2 separate regions of the Homo sapiens genome follow, and region 1 is linked to region 2. A link means that fine-mapping ties the variant in region 2 to the expression of a gene that starts in the linked region. Tissue or cell type: whole blood. Region 2 holds a variant in brackets; the other region holds the start of a gene. All regions are shown on one strand. Distances are between the middles of the regions.

The links. PIP is the estimated chance that this variant, and not a neighbour inherited with it, causes the effect.
Region 1: NEK9 starts here. The variant in region 2 is fine-mapped to the expression of NEK9 in whole blood (TOPMed, PIP above 0.99).

Annotation. Positions count from the first base shown.
Region 1 is chr14:75,125,794-75,128,477 of GRCh38, reverse strand. It overlaps NEK9 (NIMA related kinase 9), which reads left to right and starts at 1,430. Exons shown (of 22, transcript NM_033116.6): 1 at 1,430-1,775. The coding sequence starts at 1,557. RefSeq lists enhancers at 1,377-1,506, 1,517-1,566.
Region 2 is chr14:74,990,785-74,993,468 of GRCh38, reverse strand. No RefSeq gene overlaps it. Among named protein-coding and RNA genes, the nearest start is that of EIF2B2, 11 kb to the left of the region's middle. The variant A/G (reference allele first, on the strand shown) is at 1,526.

The DNA of each region.
Region 1 (2,684 bases), 140 kb before region 2:
CAAAGTGCTGGGATTACAAGTGTGAGCCACCACGCCCGGCTAGGCACATGGCTTTCTCTTAGCCCCATCACATCCTGCTTTTTCAGATTGCTGGGTTCAACTTCCCAGCTCCCTCTTACTAGGTCTGTCACATTAAGCAGGTTACTTAGGTACCTCTGTTTCTGTAAAATGGGAATGTTAGGATAATACATAATACATAATACATAGGATAATACATAATAATGTGAGATAATACGTAAAAAACCTTTAGCATAGTACCCAGAACATAACACTCAATAAATGTTAGCTGTTATGTCTGTGATGTAGACCACATTCTCACAACAAAACAAGCTTGGAGATGAGAAGTTGCCCAAGGTCACATAATTGCCCAAGGTCACATAACTGATGGAACACCTATTGTTCACCGTATTGCTGTTTTCCTACTTGACGGTAGGGAGAACATTATTGCAGATTTCCTGTTCCCAAACAGTGTGTGGCACCAAGTGCTCAAAGAATGTTTCATGATATCATATGGTCAAATATCTGGAAAAACACATAGAATAAATTGAATCTGGAAAAAGAGACGGGGGAGAAGGAAAGTGTCAGGAGAGTTGACTTAAAATATTTTTGGAGTTGTGTAGAAGAGGGAGGGACTTAGGATGGCCCTGGGAGAAAGAACTCGGCCCAGGGACCGAGATGACCGGAGGCAGACATTTAGGCTGTCTATATTATTATTATTTTTTTTTTTTTTGAGACAAAGTCTCGCTCTGTTATCCAGGCTGGAGTGTAGTGCGCGATCTCGGCTCGCTGCAACCTCCTCCTTCCGGGTTCAAGTGATTCACCTGCCTCAGCCTCTGGAGTAGCTGGGATTACAGGTGCCTGCCACCACGCCTGGCTAATTTTTGTATTTTATAGAGACGGGGTTTCACCAGTTGGTCAGGCTGGTCTCAAACGCCTGACCTCAGGTGATCCGCCCGCCTCGGCTTCCTAACATGCTGAGATTACAGGCGTGAGCCACCTTGCCCGGCCATATTATCTTTACTATACTATCTCTCTAAAAAAGAATGCTGTCCAACGTTGGAATGGGGAAGAAGGTGTACACTGGGAATGCTTCCCCAATCACCCTCTTGTCACAGACCTGACGTCAAGATGAGACTGGACGACCTCTGGGCCTCCAAGTTGTATGAGTCCGGACCGGGGAGGCAGAGAAGGGTCAATAGACCCGAGAGGCCGTACCGTCAGTGATGCCCTTGTTCCCGTGGGAGCCCTTCGGTTCCACGCGGTTCCCACCACGCGCCCGCCAACCCTAGCCCGAGGCCTCACTTTGCAGGCCTTCCCCGAAAGCGGGAAGCCTTGGCCGCTAGACTAGCCAAGAGGGTAAGCAAAGGCGGAGGAAACTCAGCCAGGCCGGAAACACAGAGAACTGTTTCCGGGTCGGGGGGCAGGAGCCACCATCGAGCTTCGCGGGGTTGCTGGGCTGACGGATCCGCGGGCCGGCATCTGAAGCGAGCGGGACGCAGCGCGGCCAGGGCCTCCGGGCATACGCAGGCTGGTCCCCAAGGCCCGCGGCCGCCGCCATGTCGGTGCTGGGCGAGTACGAGCGACACTGCGATTCCATCAACTCGGACTTTGGGAGCGAGTCCGGGGGTTGCGGGGACTCGAGTCCGGGGCCTAGCGCCAGTCAGGGGCCGCGAGCCGGCGGCGGCGCGGCGGAGCAGGAGGAACTGCACTACATCCCCATCCGCGTCCTGGGCCGCGGCGCCTTCGGGGAAGCCACGCTGTACCGCCGCACCGAGGTAGCGGCCCTCGGCGCCGGCCGCCCTGTCTGGCGCTGTCGGGTCGCCCCGAGTCCCTCCTTCTCGGCCCCGCTTTCCCAGCGTCGTGAGCTTAGTGCTTTAGGCGCCCACGGGGTATATGTCTTAGGGTCTTCACCACTCTTCCCACTCACCGGCACTAGAAATTGGCTAGATCATTGGTTTGACTAGTCATTTTTGATTGTCCTAAGTCACCTAACCGTCTCTTGAGCTTTAGTTTCCCCATCTGTAAAATGGGCTTACTGATAATACCTTGAAATCATCTTTTTCTTTTTTTTTTAAGATTATCTTGAGAATCAAACGAAGGCTCTGTTCTGTAAATTAAAGTGGTATACGAATGTGAGGTATTGCCAAAACTTCCTTCCTCTCATGCTGTATATATAGTTCTCCAAGGTCGGGGTGAGGAGGAGGGGCATAGCTTCAAAATCCCCACACCCGTGGCAACTCCGTTATTTTTGTCATTATCTTTAAGTTCAGCAGTGATCACTCAGTTGGAAGCTTTTCTTGAAGCTCATTGGGAAGATCTTTGTGTGTTGGTTCTTTATCAGTGTTTATCTTGCAGGGTTTATGCATGGGAAATACTTTGTTGGTATATTCTAAGCCATTAGTTCTTAATTTGGGGGGCACAAGGACCCCTTTGATAACCTAAGCAAAGTAATCTTGCCCCCTCCATCAACACATTTGCACATATGCACATCCTTTGGAGAGATCCATGGATCACGGAATCCCAAGTTAATATATACTAGTGTAAAACCCTGCAGTGATTATTCTACTTCCAAAAACTAACGATACACTAGATTTGATCATAAAATCTTACTTTAGGGTAAACATTTAATGAGAACTTGCTGGGGTTGCTGAAGGTGATTCATCCGTCGGAAATCCATCTGCAGT
Region 2 (2,684 bases):
CATACTGCAGCTGTCTTGTGACCTGAGGTCTCAAGACTTGGGAATAAGGTTAACATGCTGAGGATAGGAGAACAGAAAAACAGAAAGAAGCTGGGTGTGGTGGCTCACACATGTAATCTCAGCACTTTGGGAGGCGGAAGTGGGAGGATCGCTTGAGGCCAGGAGTTCAAGACCAGCCTGGGCAACATAGTGAGCTCTGCCTCCCCCTTACCAAAAAAGAAGAAAAGAAAAACAGAAAGGACCTAGGCTCTTGACAATATCAACACTTAATGGGTATTTTATGTATATTAACTCTTTTCATTCTTACAAAAACCTTGAGATAGGTGCTCTTAATGTAACCATTTTCAAAAGAGAAACTTGAGGCAAAAATAGGTAACTCGCTCAATGTTACACACCTAGTAAGTGGAAGAGCTGGAATGTAAACACAACAGTCTGGCTTCAGAGCCTGAACTTTTAGTCTATGTACTGTGGTATCTTTTATTAAAATTTTGTATGAAATCAACAAAACCAGAAGTTGCCCTACCTTTAGACTCTTTATGTAAAATGATACATTTCTCTATTGTTTATATAATTTTGAATGGAGTTCTCTATCACTTGCAGTCCAAAGCAACTTGATATTGGGTATTTATCTGTTTTTAGTTGATTTGTAACATCTATTTATATACTGCATTTAAGATACCAACCATTTGACTGCCATTTGTGCTGCGATATTAGTATTTTTAGAAATTTTGTCCCAATTCTCATATATTCCTGTGGGAGCGCAAATTAAAGCACCTTTTAGTAGCTGTTTTAGTTGGGAAAACAGCAAAAGACTTTAAAATGTTCATTTATACCCTTTGAGCCAGCATATCCATGTTTAGAAATGCATTCTAAGGAAATAATCAGAAATAGGCATACAGTTATCCACAATAATATTTTTCTTTTATTTTTATTGTTTTCTTTTCTTTTTGAGACAGAGTTTTGGTTTTGTCACCCAGGCTGGAATGCAATGGTGCAATCTCGGCTCACTGCAACCTCTGCCTGCCGGGTTCAAGTGATTCTCCTGCCTCTGCCTCCTGCCTAGCTGGTATTACCGGCCTGAGCCAGTACACCTGGCTAATTTTTGTATTTTTAGTAGAGATGGGGTTTCACCATGTTGGCCAGGCTGGTCTCAAACTCCTGAACTCAAATGATCCGCCCACCTCAGCCTCCTAAAGTGCTAGGATTACAGACGTGAGCCACTGCGCCCAGCCCACAATAATATTTTTCACTTTATTATTTTTAACACAAAAATCAGAAATAAACCTAAATATTAAAAATTAGGAGATTGGTCTAGAACATTATAGTACAAAAAGTACTTTCAACCTGGCTGTTACCATGCTTGCGAGCTATATTACCTTGATATAAAGTAGTCTGATTAACATTTGGAGCTAAAATGGTATTAGCTTTATTCTCTTTATTCTCTTCTTTATTCTCTTAAACTTGGAAGATGAGCTACTTTCTATTGAAAGTAATTCTTGTTTTTGAGACTTGAAAGCTGAAAGGT[A/G]CCTCAGGTGCTTTATAGTTTCCATGTATCTTTGTGATTCTTCAAAACTGAAATGGAAATTATGATTGCGTATTTGTTATATAATTATTTTCAAAACAAAAGAATGTTATAGTACAGTCATACAATGGAATATCGATTTTTGGAATTTTGATATGGTAAATGCTTAACAATAAGGAGAACTGTTGATAACATATTGTCAGTTTTGTTTATTTTCTATTTTTATTTATTTATTTTTTTTTGAGATGGACTCTTGCTCTGTCACCAGGCTGGAGTGCAGTGGCACGATCTAGGCTCTAGGCTCACTGTAACCTCTGCCTCCTGGGTTCAAGCAATTCTCCTGCCTCAGCCTCCCGAGTAGCCGGGACTACAGGTGCGCACCACCACGCCCAGCTGATTTTTGTATTTTTCATAGAGATGAGGTTTCATCATGTTGGCCAGGATGGTCTCCATCTCTTGACCTCATGATCCGCCTGCCTTGGCCTCCCAAAGTGCTGGGATTACAGGCGTGAGCCACCACGCCCGGCCGTATTATCAGTTTTAAAAGGCGGATTGCACACAATCACTCTTGAAAATAGTTGGGCAGTCCCTTTCAAAACTAATAATGAACTTATAATACAACCCAGCAATTGTATTTTTGGTGATTTATCCCAGAGAAATGAAGAACGTCTACATAGGAACTTGCAGGTGAATGTTCATGGCAGCTTTATTCATAATAGCCAACAACTGGAAACTACCCAATGTCTTCCAACTGGTGAATGTTTACACAAACTGTACATCCATACCATGGAATACAGCTCGGTAATAGAAAGGAATGAAATATCGATATATCCAACAACTTAGACTAACCTCAAGGAAATTATGCTGAGTGAAAAAAACCCATCTCAAAAGTATAGGCCAAGAGTGGTGGCTCACGCCTGTAATCCCAGCACTTTGGCATGTTGGGACAGGCAGATCACTTGAGCCCAGGAGTTCAAGACCAGCCTGGGCAACATGACGAAACCCCGTTTCTACTAAAAATACAAAAAAAAAAATTAGCCAGGCATGGTGGCACATGCCTGTAATCCCAGCTACTCAGGAGGCTGAGGCACAAGAATCACTTGAACCCGGGAGGCAGAGGTCACAGTGAGCTGAGATCACGCCACTGTACTCCAGCCTGGGT